Homo sapiens: one gene and its partners. The protein of the gene in region 2 binds, or shares a complex with, the protein of the main gene of each other region. Each region holds a gene or a part of one and is shown on either strand. Other genes may lie near its edges. A codon is read from its position in the direction of its gene.

The links.
Region 1: the proteins of TNFSF13B (region 2) and TNFRSF17 are in contact, whole or in part, in a crystal structure (PDB 1OQD), measured with the Homo sapiens proteins. Residues at the interface, in NP_006564.1 of Homo sapiens: Ser162, Tyr163, Lys204, Thr205, Tyr206, Ala207, Met208, Gly209, His210, Arg231, Cys232, Ile233, Glu238, Pro264, Arg265, Glu266, Asn267; in NP_001183.2 of Homo sapiens: Tyr13 (codon at 4,075), Asp15 (codon at 4,081), Ser16 (codon at 4,084), Leu17 (codon at 4,087), Leu18 (codon at 4,090), His19 (codon at 4,093), Ile22 (codon at 4,102), Arg27 (codon at 4,117), Ser29 (codon at 4,123), Ser30 (codon at 4,126), Asn31 (codon at 4,129), Thr32 (codon at 4,132), Pro33 (codon at 4,135), Pro34 (codon at 4,138), Leu35 (codon at 4,141).
Region 3: the proteins of TNFSF13B (region 2) and TNFRSF13C are in contact, whole or in part, in a crystal structure (PDB 1OQE), measured with the Homo sapiens proteins. Residues at the interface, in NP_006564.1 of Homo sapiens: Ser162, Tyr163, Asp203, Thr205, Tyr206, Ala207, Met208, Gly209, His210, Leu211, Thr228, Arg231, Cys232, Ile233, Pro264, Arg265, Glu266, Asn267, Ala268; in NP_443177.1 of Homo sapiens: Asp26 (codon at 2,998), Leu27 (codon at 2,995), Leu28 (codon at 2,992), Val29 (codon at 2,989), Arg30 (codon at 2,986), Val33 (codon at 2,977), Leu37 (codon at 2,965), Leu38 (codon at 2,962), Arg39 (codon at 2,959), Pro41 (codon at 2,953), Arg42 (codon at 2,950).

Annotation. Positions count from the first base shown.
Region 1 is NC_000016.10:11,961,287-11,968,262, forward strand, and holds TNFRSF17 (tumor necrosis factor receptor superfamily member 17), read left to right. Parts: upstream 1-3,923; 5' UTR 3,924-4,038; coding exon 4,039-4,168; intron 4,169-4,908; coding exon 4,909-5,055; intron 5,056-6,283; coding exon 6,284-6,561; 3' UTR 6,562-6,782; downstream 6,783-6,976. UniProt on the Homo sapiens protein: Receptor for TNFSF13B/BLyS/BAFF and TNFSF13/APRIL. Promotes B-cell survival and plays a role in the regulation of humoral immunity. Activates NF-kappa-B and JNK.
Region 2 is NC_000013.11:108,286,675-108,293,780, forward strand, and holds part of TNFSF13B (tumor necrosis factor ligand superfamily member 13B), read left to right. Parts: intron 1-128; coding exon 129-185; intron 186-7,106. UniProt on the Homo sapiens protein: Cytokine that binds to TNFRSF13B/TACI and TNFRSF17/BCMA. TNFSF13/APRIL binds to the same 2 receptors. Together, they form a 2 ligands -2 receptors pathway involved in the stimulation of B- and T-cell function and the regulation of humoral immunity.
Region 3 is NC_000022.11:41,923,701-41,930,960, forward strand, and holds the start of TNFRSF13C (tumor necrosis factor receptor superfamily member 13C), read right to left. Parts: upstream 3,107-7,260; 5' UTR 3,074-3,106; coding exon 2,938-3,073; intron 2,632-2,937; coding exon 2,401-2,631; intron 1,855-2,400; coding exon 1,667-1,854; 3' UTR 1-1,666. Other genes in the region: CENPM (centromere protein M), read right to left, coding at 4,105-4,282, 5,104-5,234. UniProt on the Homo sapiens protein: B-cell receptor specific for TNFSF13B/TALL1/BAFF/BLyS. Promotes the survival of mature B-cells and the B-cell response.

The DNA of each region.
Region 1 (6,976 bases), on a different chromosome or scaffold from region 2:
TCAGCTTCTCCCTGTCCTGCCTAGGCAGCCTCTCCCACTTACCTCACCACCTGGACCCCAGAGGAATTTGACGTTTTGATCAATATCTAAGTTCAAAATCTTTCCTAGGCTCAAGTCCTGCATTTAAAAAAAAAAGTATTTTTTTAAATTTCTGCATTTTATTTTCATGATTTTAGCATTTATTATGGACTACTTTAAAAATACAAAAAGAGGCCAGGCGCAGTGGCTCACGCCTATAATCCTAGCACTTTGGGAGGCCGAGGCGGGCGAATCACTTGAGGTCAGGAGTTCGAGACCAGCCTGGCCAACATACTGAAACCCCGTCTCTACTAAAAATACAAAAATTAGCCAGGCCTGGAGGCACGCACCTGTAATCCCAGCTACTAGGGAGGCTGAGGCAAGAGAATGGCTTGAACCTGGGAGACGGAGGTTGCAGTGAGCTGAAATTTTGCCACCACACTCCAGCCTGGGTGACAGAGTGAGACCCTGTTTAAAAAAAAAAAAAAAAAAGGTATGAGCAGTTGTATAATATGCTCTATCTGCCTCCTGGGTGGATACAAATAAAATAGGTAGGGTCTGAATAGACAGACATAAACAGAGGCTCTATTTGGAAAGACAGAAGACTGACAGTGGCTGGGCACTGTGGCTTACACATGTAATCTCAGTACTTTGGGAGGCTGAGGCAGGAAGATCACTTGAGCCCAGGAGTTCAAGACCAGCCTGGGCAACATGATGAAATCTCATCTCTACAAAAAATACAAAAATTAGCTGGGCATGGTGGCATGTGCGTAGTCCTAGCTACTCAGGAGGCTGAGGTGGGAGGATCGCTTAAGCCCAGAAGGTGGAGGCTGCAGTGAGCCCTGATGGTGCCACTGCACTCCAGCCTGGGCAATAGAGCAACACCCTGTCTTAAAAAAAAAAAAAAAAAAAAAGGCTGGGTGCGGTGGCTTGCACCTGTAATCCCAGCACTTTGGGAGGCCGAGGCGGGTCGATCACGAGGTGAGGGGATTGAGACCATTCTGCCCAACATGGTGAAACCCTGTCTCTACTAAAAATACAAATATTAGCTGGGCATGGTGGCGCATGCCTGTAATCCCGGATCATGAGGTCAGGAGATCGAGACCATCCTGGCTAAGATGGTGAAACCCCATCTCTACTAAAAATACAAAAACAAAATTAGCCAGACATGGTGGTGGGTGCCTGTAGTCCCAGCTACTCTGGAGGCTGAGGCAGGAGAATGGCATGAACCTGGGAGTCGGAGCTTGCAGTGAGCTGAGATAGCGCCCCTGCACTCCAGCCTGGGTGACAGAGCAAGATTCTGTCTCAAAAAAAAAAAAAAAAAACCAAAAAAAAAGAGGAAGACTGACAGTAATTACTGCCTCTGGCAAGAGAGAGGAAATCCAGGGTAGGAAAAAGACTTACTTTTCATTGAAAAATCTTTGGCACTGTTTGAATACTTATTTTTTAATAATATGAATTTTAAAAACAAGAATTATCAGTGGCTGGGCGCGGTGGCTCACACCTGTAATCTCAGCACTTTGGGAGGCCAAGGCAGGTGGATCACGAGGTCAGGAGACTGAGACCATTCTGCCCAATATGGTGAAATCCTGTCTGTACTAAAAATACAAATATTTGCTGGGCATGATGGCGCATGCCTGTAATCCCAGCTATTCCGGAAGCTGAGGCAGGAGAATCACTTGAACCCGGGAGGCAGAGGTTGCAGATCGCACTACTGTACCCCAGCCTGGCAACAGAGGGAGACTCCATCTCAAAACAAACAAACAAACAAACAAACAAATAAATAAAAAATCATCCAGGCTAGGTGGCTCATGCCTGTAATCCCAGCAGTTTGAGAGGCCAAGGCCGGTGGGTCACCTGAGGTCAGGAGTTCGAAACCAGCCTGACCAACACGGTGAAACCCCGTCTCTACCAAAAATACAAAAACTAGCCAGGCGTGGTGGCATGCACCTGTCATCCCAGCTACTCAGGAGGCTGAGGCCAGAGAATCGCTTGAACCTGGGAGGTGGAGGTTGCAGTGAGCCGAGATCGCGCCATTGCACTCCAGCCTGGGCAATAACAGTGAAACTCCAGCTCAAAAAAAAAAAAAAAAAGAATAAGTTTTTAAAGGTTGGGGTGCTTGGAGGATGAAATAAAGTAGAAGGGATGGCAGGTTTCCTTGGCACACTCCTTGGGCCTTAAGAAAGTGTAAAGAATAAGAAAAATACAACAAAAGGAAAACAACAAATATCAATGTATCCACCACTCAGCTTAATAAAGAAAATATAATAAACACAGGTGAAGCCTTTTTTGTGCTCCCCTTCTTCCCCACCACTTACCTCAGAGATAATCACTATACTGAATTAGGAGTTTGCCATTTCCTCAAATTTTAATTGAGTCCTGCATTTTTGACAAACATCTGGACGTCTCTATATGGGTATTTCACTCAGTATGGTTAAAAGCAAATTCAAGCTGGGCTTAGTGGCTCACACCTGTAATCCCAGCGCTTTGGGAGGCCGAGGTGGGTGGATCACTTGACCCCAAGTGTTTGAGAGCAACCTGGGCAACACGGCAAAAACCCATCTCTACAAAAAATACAAAACTTACCAGGCGTGCTGGCGCATGTCTGTAGTCCCAGCTACTTGGAAGGCTGAGGTGGGCAGATCACCTGAACCCAGGAGGTGGAGGCTGCAGTGAGCTGTGATTGTGTCACTGCACTCAGCCTGGGAGACAGAGTGAGACTCTGTCAAAAAAAAAAAAAAAGGCAAATTCAAGTGATCCATTTATGTAAACAGAAAAATGCACTATATAAATGTATCTATCTAGAATTCAGGGATCGGTGAAACAAAAGACATCGCATCGGCAGGTCTGTTTGCAACTTCTGGGATACACCAGGTGTTAGCGGTGATGACTTCTGGATGCTTGGACTGTGGATTTTTAAAATGGTTTTATCTGCTCATCTGTATTTCTAAATTTTCAACAATGGAACATAGATTATTGTATTATTATTATAATACCCCAAACCTATCTTCCTCTCAGCCCTCTTTCCACGAGCTCTTACCCTAAATGTCTCTTTTTCTGTCAGTGGCATTGTGCGTCTTCCTTAGTGCATCACCTCTGATCTTCCTGTAGAATTTTTTTTTTTTTTGAGATAGAGTCTTGCTTTGTCACCCAGGCTGGAGCGCAGTGGCCTGATCTTGGCTTACTGCAAACTCCGCCTCCTGGGTTCAAGCACGTCTCCCTGCCTCAGCCTCCTGAGTAGCTGGGATCATAGGTGCCTGCCACCATGCCTGACTAATTTTTGTATTTTTAGTAGAGACGGGGTTTCACCATGTTGGCCAGGCTGTTCTGGAACTCCTGACCTCAAGTGATCCACCTGCCTCGGCCTCCCAAAGTGCTGGGATTACAGGAGAGCGCCACGGCGCCCAGCTTACACCAGACTACTTTTTAAAATGTTTTTGTAAAGTCAGGGTTTCGCCATGTTGCCCAGGCTGATTTTGAACTCCTGGGCTCAAGCAATCCTTTTGCCTTTTGACTCCCAAAGTCCTGGGATTACAGGTGTGAACCCCTGCAGCTGGCCTCAATGTTAAGATCTTAAGGGGCACAGCACAGACCTTGTCTTGTCTATCTCCCTGGCACCTCTCACAGAGTACAGCTTATTAACAGATGTTCCAGAAACTGTTACTGAACATTCGGCTTGATGCTGTGGGCTTGTCTGCATCTTGCAACTGTCACCTGGCTGAGAAATTTCTTCTATAAATAAGCAGTTTCTGTTTCAGATGTGATATGCCCTGATATTTACACCCTGTCTCTTACCCCATCCAAGACTCAAACTTAGAAACTTGAATTAGATGTGGTATTCAAATCCTTAGCTGCCGCGAAGACACAGACAGCCCCCGTAAGAACCCACGAAGCAGGCGAAGTTCATTGTTCTCAACATTCTAGCTGCTCTTGCTGCATTTGCTCTGGAATTCTTGTAGAGATATTACTTGTCCTTCCAGGCTGTTCTTTCTGTAGCTCCCTTGTTTTCTTTTTGTGATCATGTTGCAGATGGCTGGGCAGTGCTCCCAAAATGAATATTTTGACAGTTTGTTGCATGCTTGCATACCTTGTCAACTTCGATGTTCTTCTAATACTCCTCCTCTAACATGTCAGCGTTATTGTAATGCAAGTAAGTAATATTGCTTGAACGATTATTCATTGGTGTGAACTATTCTGTCTATATGGACTGCTTATTCAGAGAATCAACATAATGGGCATGATGGTGAGTTTTCTTGAATCAAAAAGAGAAAGGAAGCAAGGCAGTGATTTTAATGTTTATGGAAACAAAGTAATTATTTGGAACTGAACTTGATATGATTCAGCACTATTAGCAACATAGATTTTTTTTAAAAATCAGCTCTTCTAATTAAGTGATATTTAGAATTTAAAAGTCAATGTTCATTAATTAAGGTGATTGAATGGAAATAATCCATACTTGATTATTTTGCTATCAAAACAATCCATAATTCATTATTTTAGCAAAATAATCAAGTATGACAGCCGGGTGCGGTGGATGGCTCACACCTGTAATCCCAGCACTTTGGGAGGCCGAGGTGGGTGAATCACCTGAGGTCGGCAGTTTGAGGCCAGCCTGGCCAACCTGGTGAAACCCTGTCTCTACTAAAAATACAAAAAATTAGCTGGGCATGGTGGCACAGGTCTGTAATCCCAGCTACTCGGGAGGCTGAGGCAGGAGAATTGTTTGAACTTGGGAGGTGGAGGTTGCAGTGAGCCGAGATCGCGCCACTGCACTCTAGCCTGGGCAACAGAGCAAGACTTTGTCTCAAAATAAATAAATAAATAATAACAATAAAGTATGTGAATATTATGTTATCAGCTCATTATCTGTCTGATGTTCTTTTCATAAAGGTGTGACCAATTCAGTGAAAGGAACGAATGCGATTCTCTGGACCTGTTTGGGACTGAGCTTAATAATTTCTTTGGCAGTTTTCGTGCTAATGTTTTTGCTAAGGAAGATAAACTCTGAACCATTAAAGGACGAGTTTAAAAACACAGGTTGGTTTGATGGTGAATCTTTGAAATCTATTTCCAGGGGATGGCTATTGTGAGTTTCAGTTCCTTTTCTTTTTTTAGCGTTGACTATTTCACTTCGTTACAGCCCTTTCGAATGTGTTAGAACATTGTTACATTAAATGAACTTGGTAGAGGTGAGCCATCTTCATTCTGATTTTGACACCTTGGCAGATTTTCTACAATGTCAGTCTTCTCCAGGATTCTTCCACTGTTAATTACTCTATTGAAAGTACTAAGGCTTTCTTGGGAAACATCAGTCTCTTTGACTAAAGTTAGCACATCGATTAAATGCCACATTATCAGAAACTCCTAGCCAGGTCTGCTACTGTCAGGAAAAGCATATTTGTCAAGATCTATGGTCATGTTTTTATACAAATATAGGTGTTCTTTGCTTGAGTGAACATTTTACTACTGAAAAATGTTAGAAATGAATAACCAGTTGCTCCTGAATTATTTGAGGAATCATCTAAAAAATAATTATTTTTAAGCAATAGAGAACCAGTCCCAGAAAAATGAATGTTCTACTTAAGTGCCTCTTAAGATAAAAATACTTCTGCAGCACCTTTGCTCATGATTGGATTCCCAAGCATGTACAGCCACTGCCCTATTTCTGTATGCATTTATTTATTTATTTATTTATTTATTTATTTATTTATTTAGAGATGGAGTCTCGCTCTGTGGCCCAGGCTGGAGTGCAGTGGCGTGATCTCAACTCACTGCAGCCTCTGCCTCTTGGGTTCAAACAATTCTCCCATCTCAGCCTCCTGAGTAACTGGGACTATAGGTATGTGCCATCACCTCCGACTAATTTTTGTACTTTTTGGTAGAGACAGGGTTTCATCATGTTGGCCAGGATGGTCTCAAGCTCCTGACCACAAGTGATCTGCCCGCCTCAGCTTCCCAAAGTGCTGGGATTACAGGCGTGAGCCACAGGGCCCAGCACATACTCATTCTTTTTTACTGAAAAGATCTGTTTCAAGCTGGGTGTGGTGGCATGGAGCTGTAGTCCCGACTGCTCTGTAGGCTAACGTGGGAGGATTGCTTGAGCCCAGGAGTTTGAATGCAGCCTGGGCAACACAGTAAGACCCCACCTCTAAAAAATGAAAAAATCTCTCTCACATTGCTTTGAGTCCCGATGTGTACTGCTAAGACTCTCATGACCACATTCTCTGTGAAGTTTGGGTTAATGTTTCCGTTTCTACATAATTAGGATCAGGTCTCCTGGGCATGGCTAACATTGACCTGGAAAAGAGCAGGACTGGTGATGAAATTATTCTTCCGAGAGGCCTCGAGTACACGGTGGAAGAATGCACCTGTGAAGACTGCATCAAGAGCAAACCGAAGGTCGACTCTGACCATTGCTTTCCACTCCCAGCTATGGAGGAAGGCGCAACCATTCTTGTCACCACGAAAACGAATGACTATTGCAAGAGCCTGCCAGCTGCTTTGAGTGCTACGGAGATAGAGAAATCAATTTCTGCTAGGTAATTAACCATTTCGACTCGAGCAGTGCCACTTTAAAAATCTTTTGTCAGAATAGATGATGTGTCAGATCTCTTTAGGATGACTGTATTTTTCAGTTGCCGATACAGCTTTTTGTCCTCTAACTGTGGAAACTCTTTATGTTAGATATATTTCTCTAGGTTACTGTTGGGAGCTTAATGGTAGAAACTTCCTTGGTTTCATGATTAAACTCTTTTTTTTCCTGACATCTAAGTTTTTATTAACGTGAGTTTTTAAAAACAAGCATGTATACCAGTGTGGGGGGTGAGGGTGGGAGAGAAAGGTGGGAGGGGGAAAGAATTCTAACCTATTGATAATAAAGCTCCAGTTTTGGCCAGGCGCGGTGGCTCATGCCTGTAATCCCAGCACTTTGAAAGGCCGAGGCGGGCAGATTACCTGA
Region 2 (7,106 bases):
GTCATGCAATCAATGTAAAAAGTATAATTGATTTAGTGTTTCTGGAAGAGTGGGTTTCTAGCTTTGTGTTCTCAGTTTCTTTATTATTTCTACTCAAGTAACTAAAATGATAAATTTTTGCTTTTTAGTCACTCAAGACTGCTTGCAACTGATTGCAGACAGTGAAACACCAACTATACAAAAAGGTAATAAAATATAGCAAAGACTTGGAACCAAGCCAAATGTCCATCAATGATAGACTGGATTAAGAAAATGTGGCACATATACGCTATGGAATACTATGCAGCCATAAAAAATGATGAGTTCATGTCCTTTGTAGGGACATGGATGAAGCTGGAAACCATCATTCTCAGCAAGCTATCGCATGTTCTCACTCATAGGTGGGAACTGAACAATGAGAACACATGGATACAGGAAGGGGAACATCACACACCGGGGCCTGTTGTGGGGTGGGGGGAGGGGGGAGGGATAGCATTAGGAGATATACCTACTGTTAAATGACGAGTTAATGGGTGCAGCACACCAACATGGCACATGTATACATATGAAACTAACCTGCATGTTGTGCACATGTACCCTAAAACTTAAAGTATAATAAAAACAAATAAAATATCCCCAGTACTTTTTCCACTTAGAATTCAGTCCACTCCAAATATTTGTAAGTTTCAAGTCTAAAGACTGTATTTGAATTGCATGTAAAATCAATCAGCCATCTCAGAACTTCTTATAATCAGGTAAAAAATAATAAACCTACATTTATTCAAAATGACTTGGGAATAAATAATAATTAAGACCAAAGTAATAATCTAATAAGGAGAATGACCTTAGAGGCACGAATACTTAGAAATGTTAAATAATTAAACTACAATAAAATAAAAACCAATAATAAATCAAATTCCATTTTTATTATTTAGACAGCATTTTATCTTTAAGAATGACTCAAGACCATCTTCACAAATATGAATTCTCCTGTTATATTCAATTGTAAAAATCATAGAAAGAGGAAAATAAAACTGAACAGATTATTAAAAATCTGTATTTTTAAAATAAATTTCCAACATCAAATTATTGCTTGATAATTTACCGTTTTCTCACAGAGGTAGAATGTTTTACATTTTTCAGTTATTTGAAGCCTTTTTTAGTTTTAATTTTAGACAAGTTAAGTGTTTTCCATAATAATGGCCTGAAACCAGGTTTACAAAGAAACAACTTTTAATGTCATTTCCCAATATGTGTCACCTAGAATGTTAATCCAGAGAAATGGTCCTTGAAATAAGAGTTTCAGTGTCGTATAAGTTTGGAAACACAGCATCTTACATATTTTTCTTTGAGTCACAAGGCACATTAGCAAGTTATTGAATCTAAGTAGTCCTACTTTAAAAAATGTTTGTTTAACTTTGTTTCATCCAGTTTTTCACAAATTTTTGTGACTATGCTGCTTTATCATGTATCGACCTCTCTCTGAAAGCAAATGGGAATTGATGCTCTATAATAGCATTTGTTTATATAAGATAACTAGTGAACAAAAATGTACTAAAAAAGAACCATTCGTTCACTCACACATTCATTGATTCATTTAGTTTACATTTATTAATTAAGAATATACAATATTTTAATTACTGTATGTTTACTGGGTGTATCAGTGACTAAAATATGCACAAATGCTCCTTGGCTTACAATGGAGTTATGTCCTGATAAACCCATCCTAAGCTGAAAATAACGGGCCTTGAAAAAAGCAGTTAGGACATCTAACTTACCAAATATCATAGCTTAGTCTAGCCTACCATAAATGTGCTCAGAACACTTACATTAGTCTACAATTGGGCAAAATCATCTAACATGAAGCCCATTTTATAGTAAAGTATTGAGTAGCTCATGTTGTGTTTTGAATACTGGAATGAAGTATGATTTCTCCTGAATGTATGTGGCTTTCACACCTTTGTAAAGTTGAAGATTCTAAGCCAAACCATCGCAAGTCCATATGCATGGTTTTCTACTTTGAAAGAGCTTACCTCTTGATGAGGAGAAAACAAACGAAAGGCCCAACAACCCACAAATGAACAAGTAAAATGTAGATGAGACGAAATGCTGTGGAGGGCAGCAAAGCAGGCGGGGGCAGGAGAAAGTTTTGTGTTGTGAACGAACTACGAGTTCAGGAGTATCTGGAGGTTAGGCTAGGCGATGAGGAATGGGCAAAACAACACTAGCACAGATGATGAATGTGAGTTGGCACTGGTAATGATTCCCTGGCATGCTCTTTTCATCTGTGTTTTTTTCTGCGTGACTTTAATTGTCCTAAATGCAACACAAGTACTAAACTACTTGTAAATCTATTATTTATTGTTCAACATTTTCCTAAATCATGTTTGCAACTTTTAATAAGCAGCACACTGTTTCCTAAGAAGTAAAAGAAAGCCAGAAGATCTTAAGGGCCAAAGTTACAGTTTTTAAAAATTCTTTTGAAAAGGTTTACTTTACACATCTCTCCCCCACCCCCCAAAATGCTATAAATTGCACCAAATTATGCAGCTGCTATACTCCAATGTGCGTGTGAACTGGAGAGTATGCTGTGATCTTCCTGGAGTGGTGACTGCTTGCCACAGATCCAGGGGTGCTGAACTGGGGTGATTACCTGGGATGCTTGCTTGCAGTGCTCCAACCTTTAGGATGGACAGGTTGCCCTTGTGATGTCAGCAAACCCTTGACCAGTATATAAATGTGAGTGTGCATGGGCATTTAGCAGGCAGATTGCATTTAGCAGGTAGGTTGCATTTTGTTAAAAAAGGCTGTACTCACTAAAGCATTTTACTTGCACAGGTCCATAAGAAGACTTCTGGGAAAAGATAATAATATATTATTAATATTATTAGCATATTATATGTAATTATATATTATATAATATATAATGTATTATAATAATTATATATAATAATATATTATTATCTTCTGGGGAAAGAATTTATATATATAAATATTATTAGCATATTGTATATATTATCTTATTGTATTATACATAACATCAGGTCTTGAGATGAAATCATGTTATGTATTCCAGAGACATGGAGATTCAAAGGAGCGGGGCTACGTTCATCTGATATTTTGAGTTCCTATGCTTGCTCTGCCCCATACTTTTGTCCAGACAGTGAGGGCAGAGGTAAACTTCACAAAAGAGAAAAAGACAAGAGGGGTTTATCAGAGTGTAGTCTCATGTCTTTTCTGTTCATTTGTTTTTTTGAATTTTAATCTAGATTTTGAATAGGTAATGCATTCACACGTTGCAAAAAATAAAAAAGCATGAAGAGTGTGGATTGCTCCTTTTCCCATCTGTTCCTGCCCACACTCACCTCACTTTCAGTTTCCTACATAGACTTCAGACTCCCTCTATGTTAACACAAACAAATGCAAATGTAGCTCTGCTTCCCTCCTTTCTTATAGTAAACACTTAAAAACCATATTTTCAATACATATGATTTGAAAATGAGATTATAACCTGCATTCTTTACTTAACAATGTATATTGCAGACATTTTGATGCCTGTGTACAGAGATCCTCATATGAAAAAAAAAGCAGCATAGTATTCCATTGTATGAATTGAATGTATTTAACCAGTCTCCTACCAATAGACTTCTTGGTGTCCATCTTTTGCAATGCAGGTGCTTCGAAAAATAATTGTGTGCATCCGTAACTTCTCATATGTCAGCCTATGTGTGGGACAGATTTTGAATTTTGACAGTTATTGCTAAGTGGTCCTATAGGGGTTGTAAAGTGTTATGCTATCACTTGCAGCAAAAGAGCATCAGGTGAAAAATAGCATCTCTTAATTTGCTTTCTTTCAAGCCATTCTTTTGTATGTTTTAAGAACCATTTGTATTTCTGTCTTTACATTCTTCCAATTTTTCATGTCTATTTTTATTTTTTTCTGTGAGCCATCTGTTCATATTTTTTTCCATTTTTTCGTTGGACTTGGTCATTTTTAAACTGATTTCTGTGAGCACCTTATATCTCAAGCAGATTAATTCTTTATATTACTAATTGCAAGCATTTCCTCCCATACTGTCATTTGTCTTAATTTTGCATACTTTTTTTTTCTGTCAAATTTGTCAATTTTTTTAAAGGATTCTGGATTTGGGTTGTGATTAGAAAGACCTTTTACACTTAAACGTATTAAGGAAAGATCTCGTGTTCCTTCTGAAACCTTTATAGTTATTTTCTACCTTTAAATACTTTATCTATTTGCAATTTATCCTGGTATAAGATGTAAGGTATGAAACCAACTTAATTTTCCCCTGTGAGGGCATCACAGTCTTTTTTTAATCGCCCATCTTTTCCAGACTGCTTGAAGACATTAACTTTAACTTTTATTAAATTCCATGTTTAGTCTATGTTTTTTTCACTTTTTAAATACTTTTCTGTTATACCATATTGACTTAATGTCTATTTATGCACCCCAATAAAATGGCATTTTGGTTACTAGGGCTTTGTATTATTTTCTGGTAAATTTAATTCACTCATTTTTTCTTTTTACTTCTAGAATTTTTCTTTTTTTTCTATTAAATATAGGAACTGTAGAATCAGCTTACTTAGTTAAAAAGAAAAAGAAAAATACGTGCTATTTTTGTTGAATCTCATATTTATAAATTAAGAAAAATACCCTCATGATAACAGATGTACAGATCAAATCCAAGAACATGATATATATTTATATTTTTTTAGTCTCCTTTTTTTTCTTTTAGTATGTATTGAAATTTTCTTCAAGAAGTTCTTGCATATTTCTTATTAATATCATTACAAAGTGTTTTACCTTTTCAAATGCTATGATAAATAGAAACATTTTCTTTCATTATATTTTCCAGCTGGTTGTTCTTTTTGTGTATAAAAGCCTTGAATTCCATGATATATCTTTTCAATATTAAAGTTGAAATGTTTTCTTTTATTTTTGGATTGCATTTCCCTAGCATGACTTTGCCCAAAATTTTACTTTTAACTTCTCTGAAATAATTTTTCTGTGTTTCTCATGTATGCAAAACAGAGTTGCTCTTTGTTTTTTGATATCATCTTAAAATAATTTTCATTTATTGGGTGATATAAATCAATTTACATTTACTTATTTCAGAAATGTATTTGGCTTTTATTCATCATAATGTGCTATACTGTGTATTGTTTTTCATGTTAACAAAAGAGTTTCTATTTTATAGTTTTAAAGAGGTTGCTTACTATGTAGGCTATTTGCTTTGCTTTTTCTGTTAGCGTAGACTTCTAAATGCTAAATACTAGGGGTAGCTACCTTTTCAGTTATATCTTTTTATTGAAATTAAATTCATATAACATAAAATTAAATGCACAATTCATTGTAATGTAGTATTCACAATATTTTACAACCACCAACTCTCTCTAGCTCCAAAATATTTTCTTCAGCCCCAGAGAAAATCCTGTATCCATTAAGCAATCAGTTACCATTTCTCTGTCTCCCCATGCCCCTGTACCAGCAATCTGCTTTATGTCTCTGTGGATTCACCTATTTTAGATGGTTTATATAAAGGCAGTCACACAATACGTGACTTTTAGTGCCTGGCTTCTTTCACTTAGCATGATGTTTTGAGGTTCACCCACATTCTAGCATGTATTCATACTTCATGCCTCTGTATGAATGTATATCATTCTATTATAAGTAAGCCATAATTTCATTAAGGGTATTTGGTTTGTTTCCACCTTTTGGCTATTGTGAGTAGTGATCCTGTGAACATTTGCATAAAGTACTTCCTGAGTGCCTCTTTTCAATTATTTGGAGTATACATCGATGAATCGATGAGTAGAATTGCTGAGAAAATGTCAACCTGTTCTCTACAGTGCTGCAACATTTTGCCTTCCCCCCAGCAATGTACTAGTGTTCTAATTTTTCCACATCCTCACTGACACATCTTATTTTCAATGTTTTTATTAGTATTGCCTTCCTACTGGGTGTGAAGCCATATCTCTGTTATTTATTTGCATTTTCCTTATGACTGATGATGTTGAGCATCTTTTCATGTCCTTTTTGGTGTCTTCTTTGGAAAAATGTCTATTCAAGTACCTTGTCCATGTGTTTTAATTGGGTTGTTTGTCTTTTTGTTGTTGAGTTGTAAAACTTCCTTATATATTATGGATACAAGACCCTTATCAAATATCTGATTTGCAAGTATTTTCTCCTCTTTTGTGGATTATCTTTTTACTTTCTTGAGAATGTCATTTGAGGCACAAGAGTGTTGTACATCAGATAAATGAAGTAAAATTTATCTTTTTTTTGTTTCTTGTGATTTTAGTGTTATCATTGAAGAACTCATTGCCAAATTCAACATCATGATTCACCCATATGTTTTCTTCTAAGAGTCTTGTAGTTTTATGTCTTATATTTAGGTAATTAATCTATTTTAATTCATTTTTGTATATGGTGTGAAGCAGAGGTCCAAAATCATCTTTTAGCATGAGGATATCTAGTTGTCCCAACATCATTTGTTGAAGAAGATGATTTCTTCCACATTGAACGGTCTTGGCACACTTGTTAAAAATCAGTTGTACGTAGATGTATGGGTTTATTTCTGTACTCTCAAATTTATTTTGTTTCTTTATACACCTCGCCTTATGCTGGACCACTATACTATTTGGATTACTGTTATGTTATAGTAAATTTTGAAATTTAGGATAGTGAATCCTTCAATCTTGTTATTTATTTTTAAGATTGTTTTGGCTATTTGATACTCTTTTGCAATAACAAATGAATTGTAAGGCTGGCTTTTTCATTTTGGAGAACAAAAGGTCACTGAAATTTGTATATGGATTAGACTGAATCTGTACATAATACTGAGTATTACTGCCATCTTAAACTAAATCTATCAATCCATGAACACAAGATATCTTCTCTTTTATTTATATGTCCTATCATTTCTTATAGCAATCTTTTGTAGTGTTCAGTGTTAAAGTGTTTTATGTCCTTGGGTAAATTTACTTCTAGGTGTTATGTTCTTTTGAATGCTGTTTAGTCAGTTCAGTTTGCTATAACATATTACACTAGACTGAGTGGATTAAACAATAAAAATGTATTTCTCACACTTCTGGAGGCTGGAAAATTC
Region 3 (7,260 bases), on a different chromosome or scaffold from region 2:
AATGTGCTGTGTCTTGGAGCAGCTGGAACCCCAGGTGGACCCTGAGAGAGCTACCTGCCAGCATGTTCCTTCAGCTCGAGTTTGGAGTCCAGCCCTGGAGGCTGCGCACCTCCTCCCAAATGCAGGCTTGTGGCTCTGGAAGCTGCCACTGGGGTCAAAATGGCATCTTAGGTTCTGGCAGATTGGGCCAATCTCAGGGTTGACCCTGGGGTACAGATACCTGAGAATCAGCAAAATCCAGCTCAATCTTTTCTCCTTTGTTATTTCTTAAAATAATCTTGTACTAAATCCCAAAGCAAGCGAACCCATGAATTGATTATTCACTGCTGCCATTTGCATCAGTTTAAAAGCAGGACGGCTCTGAGGGCAGGTATTAAAGAAATAGAGGCCAGGCCCGGCGCCTCCTGCCTATAATCCCAGCCCTTCGGGGAGGACTGCCTGAGGCCAGGAGTTTGAGACTGGCCTGGGCAACATACCGAGACCCTGTCTTTAAAAAAAAAAAAAGGCCAGCCACGGTGGCTCACGCCTGTAATCCTAGCACTTTGGGAGGCTGAGGCGGGCGGATCACGAGGTCAGGAGATCGAGACCATCCTGGCTAATACGGTGACACCCCGTCTCTACTAAAAATACAAAAAAAATTAGCCGGGCGTGATGGCGGGCGCCTATAGTCCCAGCTACTCAGGAGGCTCAGGCAGGAGAATGGTGTGAACCCAGGAGGCGGAGCTTGAAGTGAGCCGAAATTGCGTCACTGCACTCCAGCCTAGGCGACAGAGCGAGACTCTGTCTCAAAAAAAAAAAAAAAAAAAAAATTAGCTGGGCAAGGTGGAGCACCTGTAGTCCCACCTACTCAGGAGGCTGAAGCAGAAAGATTGCTTGAGCCCAGGCTGCAATTAGCTGGGGACCCATCGTTGCACTCCAGCCTGCGTGATACAGCAAGACCCTGTCTCAAAAAAAACCAAAACACAAAACAAGGCCGGGCATGGTGGCTCATGCCTGTAATCCCAGCACTTTGGGAGGCCGAGCAGGGCGGATCACGAGGTCAGGAGATCGAGACCATCCTGGCCAACATGGTGAAATCCCGTCTCTACTAAAAATACAAAAATTAGCTGGCTGTGGTGGTGCGTGCCTGTAATCCCAGCTATTCGGGAGGCTGAGGCAGGAGAATCACTTGAACCAAGGAGTCGGAGGTTACAGTGAGGCGAGATCGCGCCACTGTACTCCAGCCTGGCGACAGAGCAAGACTCGTCTCAAAAAAAAAAAAAAAAAAAAAAAAAAAAAATCAAACAAACACAAAAAACCACCCAACTACAAATTAGGCATCCTCCCACTTGGTCTTTTTTCAGATTCATTTTGGCTTAATGGTGCCTTCCCCATTTTAAAAGCGGTCTTTTACTCATAGTGCCCCAGCCTTTTGAAGGCACAGGAACAGGAGCTGGGCTACCACCTTCAAGGGCTGTCAAAGATGGTGAGGTCTGAAGCCAAAGGCAAGCACACCAAACTCCATGGGGGCTGAATGCTGTGGTCTGTAGTGTCTGTGCTTCTGCAGAGTTAGCCTGGTCCCAGAAAGAGGGCATGTGCATGCTGGAGTGAAGAGCTGAATTTGATTTCCAAGCCCCTGGCTGGGGGTCCAGAGGGAGGGCAGGGGCCACCTCCTGCCGGCTCCCTGCTATTGTTGCTCAGGGCCGGCCGTCTTGGTGGTCACCAGTTCAGTGGAGCCCAGCTCTGTGGCTGGCACAGGGACACTGTGGCCAGGTGGGGTGGTTCCTGGGTCTTCCCCAGGAGGAGGCCAGGCAGGAGCTGTGGCATCAGAGATTCCCGGAGACAGAATGATGACCTTGTCCAGGGGCTCTGGGGCTGCAGGCAGAGGGGGTAGAGGCTCCGTACTCAGTCACAGCCTTCCCTCCCTCCCCTAGAAGACTCCTCTGGAGGGGCAGTCCTCCGTCAAATGAAGCCCAATGCAGGGTGGGGAGGGGTGGCACCTGGCTGACCCTGAGTCCAGAGGCCTGGCCAGTGGGGAGCTGGCAGGGCAGGGAGTTGGGGAGCTGGGGCTCAGTCTGGCAAACTCTTCAGGGATTTATGGGGGAACCAAGCTCCGTTAGACTCCCAAAGGGCAGGACAGACTCCTCCCTCAGACGGGGCCCCCTTCCTGCAACCTGTCTCTTCCTCACACTGGGGTCTGTCAGGGCAGAGCTGTTCCTGGCTCCGACCAGGGTCTCAGGGGCAGGACTATGTCTCCCTCCCCAGCCTGAGCTCCTCAGCGCAAACTCTTTTCCACTCTGTCTCCGTTTCCCCTTAAAGCCCTTCTCTCCCCCTCAGGGGCCATGCATCTCCCCCTAGACCGTCCCGACACCCCAGCCCCTGCGCCCCGCTCAGACTGGTTCCCCTACACACGGAACTCACCGTCCTTGTCTCCGTCGGGGGCCTCTGCGGAGGACGCGCCGCGAAGCCGCCGCTGTCGCCGCCTCCAGCTCACCAGACCCACCAGGACCAGCGCCAGGACCAGTGCCAGGCCCAGCAGCGCGGGGGCGCCAAAGAGCAGCCCGGGCAGGGGCAGCGCCGCCTCGCCGGCCCCCGCGCCCACCGACTCCTGCGGCTGCAGCGCCGTCCTGGGCGCAGGGCTGCTGGCCCCGGCTGCTTCGGGAGGGGACAGGGAGGGAGGCCAGGGGGCCGAGGGGAGGGAGGAGCGGGGACGGGGAGGGGCGGAGGGGGGCGAGGCTGGCCGGGGAGGGGAGGGACAGCCGGGGGGCGGTGGACAAGGGGAGGGAGAGAGGCGGCGGTGAGGGCCACGCGGTGATCGCGGGCCCCTCCAGGCCCTGCCCACAGGGTCCTTTCAGCCCTCGGCGCCCCCGGGGGTCGGGGCTCTGCCTGCGCCCTGGCGATCGGGGCCCCGTTCTCCCCGCAGCTGCCGGCGCCGCGCGCCCCGTGGGTCCCCCTTACCCGGTTTCGGCCGCGGCGTGCGCAGGAGCCCGCAGGCCACGCAGTGGCGGACCAGCAGGTCGAAGCACTCGGCCGGGACGCAGGGCGTGGGGGCTGGCGCGTCCCTGCCCCGCAGGCTCCGGGGCCCTCGCCTCATGGTGCCGACGCCGCCGCACAAGCTGCGGGGACTGAGGCTGAGCTGGGCTCCGGGGCCCTCGGGGAGGAAGCGGGGGGCGGGGGGAGCACTCTGCCCTGCCCCGCCCCCGCCTGCTGGGTGGGACCGAGCTCGCCTGGGGCCCCCCTTTCTTTTCTTTTTTTTTTTTTGAGACGGAGTCTCGCTCTGTCGCCCAGGCTGGAGTGCAATGGCGCTATCTCGGCTCACTGCAAGCTCTGCCTCCCGGGTTCAAACAATTCTCTGCCTCAGCCTCCCGAGTAGCTGAGATTGTAGGCGCCCACTGCCACGCCCGGCTAATTTTTGTATTTTTAGTAGAGACGGGGTTTCACCATCTTGGTCAGACTGGTTTTGAACTCCTGACCTCGTGATCCACCTGCCTCGGCCTCCCAAAGTGCTAGGATTACAGGCGTGAGCCACCGCACCCGGCCTGGCCTCTCTTTCTACCTGTGGTTCCCCAATTCAGCCCCTCAACCAGCACCGCCTGGGTGGGCCCTCTGCTGGGTGCTGGGAGGTGTCTGGGGGCAGACCAGAGCCTCCTCTTGGGTAGGGAGGGGGATGGACCCCGCAGCCAGGACACAGACCCTGAGTGGTTCCTCTGCTCCGTCTAGCCAAAGCCTCTCCATGACCCCGAGTGCTCCCCTGCCATCTCCCCCAACCCACCTGTCTCCTCCTCTCTTCCTGCCCTTCCTGGACAGAGCTGGTTGGGGATATCAGACACCTGCTTTTTTTTTTTTTTTTTTTGAAAAAGAGTCTGGCTCTGTGCAGTGGTGCAATCTCGGCTCACTGCAACCTCTGCCTCCCAGATTCAAGCGATTCTCCTGCCTCAGCCTCCCGAGTAACTGGGATTACAGGCATGCACCACCATGCCCGGCTAATTTTTGTATTTTTAGTAGAGGTGGGGTTTCACCATTTGGCCAGGCTGGTCTCGAACTCCTGACCTCAGGTGATCCGCCCTCCTCGGCCTCCCAAAGTGCTGGGATTATAGGTGTGAAGCCACAGTGCCCAGCCTGACATCAGACACTTGTACCAGGCCCAAGTAGCATGTGGGTCTGCCCTGAGGGAATCTCACACTTGTGCTGATGGGGGAAGACAGCCTCGCAGCAAGGGCACCAGCTCACGTCATCCTGGAAGGTGGGCCGGAAGGCTTCATGGAGAGGGCGATGGTGAAGTGTTTGCCAGATGGACTGAGGTCTAGGGAGCAGATGGGGGTGAAGGCCAAAGGGGAGCAAAGGCTTGGAGGCCCAAACAGGAAGTCCAGGGAGTGCTGGGACCGAAAGGCTGGACTGGGGCCTTATCTAGCACATTAGGGAGCTTGGACTGTGGCTGGGGGACACGAGGGAGCCACTGGGGCTTTGTGCAGGGAGGACCCAGGAAGATCTGCCTATGAGTGAGGGAACTGTGACTGCAGTGGAGGGAAGCCCGCCCACACCTGCTCCTTTTCTCCAGGGCTATGTGTCCTCTCCTGCTCACCTCTGTGTCTCACTGCGGGCCCCTCCTGTCTATCTCTGCTCCCCAGTGTTTGGGGTCCCCAACTGTCTGTCACCCGTGTCTCTCTCAGACTGCGTCTCAGAAACACACACAAGCCCCTCCGCCCTCCTGGTCACATGCTACCCCCTCCCCAGGGCCAGGGCTGGAGGGAACTCTGGGAGCTCAGGGCTCAGCAGAGAGCATGGGGTTAAATGCCACACATGCCACCCAGACCCCTAAGCACTCAGGGCTGGGGAAGCACAGTGAGAGGAGAAACTCAGGGGCTGGGGAGGGAGCCTGGGGGCAGAGGGAGACCCTGAGCAGCAGCGAGGGGGAGGCAAACACTCCAGGCGGAGGGCTGCAGGGGCTAAGGCTTGGAGAGATGAAAGGGGAGCCTGAGCTGCTCTGGGGGCAGGCATGGCCACTGCCACAGGGGATGCTGGGAGGGAGGAGGGAGCATCCGGGCTGCGGATGGGCAGGGCACCAGTCCCGGGGCAGTACAGAACCTGGGGGTGTCTGGGTAGGAGGGAGATTCTGAGCTGTACCTGCAAGGGTCCCTCTCTCTGGCACTGTGGCCCACGTCCAGGGCAGGTGGCCCAGGGCAGGGGATGATGCAGCGGCTGGCCATGGAGTGAGGGGAGCAAGGCCGACCCCCAGGTTTCCAGCTTGGGAGACCCTGAAGGTTCACAAAGAACCCCAGTCAGCCAGCCCTGACTGGTGGGCGCTGGCCCACCCTCTCCATCCCCTGTACATGGGCCAGCAGCTCCCAGGCAGGAAGGTGTGGGCGGAGGGGAGCTGCAAAGGAGAAGTGGGGCTGGGGGCAGGTGTGGGTGAGCGTGGGTGTATGGTGATGTGGGGGTGGGGGCAGGTGTGGGTGAGCGTGGGTGTACGGTACAGGGATGGGGGACAGGACCCTGGAGGGGAGCCAGGGCAGGGAAGGCCTCTCTGTGAGGCAGAGAGGTGGGGACAAAGCCAGAAGACTGAGCCATAACCCTGCCACCCACATACACGTCCATCCATGTTGGTGCTGGTATTACCCATTAGTGAGGGCTGCAGAGGCCTGACTGAGTACCAGGCAGCTCATTTAGCCCTTGTGCCAGCCATGTGGGCAGACTGAGGCTTGTGGGAACCCAGGAACGGGGAACCTGTCCCTGGAGAGGGTGGCCCAGTGAGGCCAGAGTCGGGAGAATTTACAGGAGTTAGGAGGAGGGGGTCCGCCTGCCCCAGGTCTGCGTTTCACAGCAGAAGCACTGGCTGCTCTGACCCCCAGCAGAGACTCGAGGAGACTGCTCTCAAGGCCAGAGAGAGTGGGAGGGCTGGAGCCCACTGTCAGAGTTCCAGGGTCCCTTACCTTGGCCAGAGAGGGAGGCCAGCTGCTAAGAGCAGCAGACACAAATGAGACACCCACTCATGTGACACAAATGTTTGCTGGGCGCTCCCTATGTGCTGGGCCAGGTGCCGGGACAAAAGGCCTGCGGGATTCGTGTCTGTGTTGTGTGCAGGTGCCTGGCCTCACATGAACCTTTCCACTTGGGCCTCCTAAATGGGGTGGGGGTGGGGGGCTGCAGCAGGCCCTGTGTCGCTACTTGGATGACAAAACAGTTAAGAAGAATTCACAATCAGACCAATGTGGGGAATGTTAGTTTACTCCTCAATGTATTCTTATTTCCCCGTGGCTTTTTTTTTTTTTTTTTTTTTTTTTTGAGACGGAGTCTCTCTCTGTCGCCCAGGCTGGAGTGCAGTGGCGCAATCTCCGCTCACTGCAAGCTCCGCCTCCCAGGTTCACGCCATTCTCCTGCCTCAGCCTCCCGAGTAGCTGGGACTACAGGCGCCCGCCACCATGCCCGGCAAATTTTTTGTATTTTTAGTAGAGACGGGGTTTCACCGTTAGCCAGGATGGTCTTGATCTCCTCACCTCGAGATCTGCCCGCCTCGCCCTCCCAAAGTGATGGGATTACAGACGTGAGCCACCGCGTCCCTTTTTTTTTTGAGACGGAGTCTGGCTCTGTCACCCAGGCTGGAGTGCAGTGGCGTGATCTCGGCTCACTGCAGCCTCTGCCTCCTGGGTTCAAGCCATTCTCCTGCCTCAGCCTCCCACGTAGCTGGGACTACAGGCACGGGCCACCATGCCTGGCTAAATTTTTTTGTATTTTTAGTAGAAATGGGGTTTCACCATGCTAGCCAGGCTGGTCTTGAACTCCTGACCTCAAGTGATCCACCCACCTTGGCCAACACGCCTGGCCTAATTTCTTTTCTTTTTTTTTGAGATGGAGTTTCACTCTTATCGCCCAGGCTGGAATACAGCAGTGCGATAAGCAACACCCAACTCAGCTCACTGCAACACCCAACTCCCAGGTTCAAGCGATTCTCCTGCCTCAGCCTCCTGAGTACGTGGGATTACAGGCACCTGCCACCAGGCCCGGCTAATTTTTTGTATTTTTAGGAGAGGTGGGGTTTCGCCATGTTGGGGAGGCTAGTCTCAAACTCCTGACCTCAGGTGATCTGCCCACTTTGGCCTCCCAAAGTGCTGGGATTACAGGCATGAGCCACCACTCCTGGCCTAATTTCTTTATTCAAGTCTTTTTTTTTTTTTTTTGAGATGGAGTCTCGCTCTGTTGCCCAGGCTGGAATGCAATGGCACGATCTTGGCTCACTGCAACCTCCACCTCCTGGGTTCAAGCGATTCTCGTGCCTCAGCCACC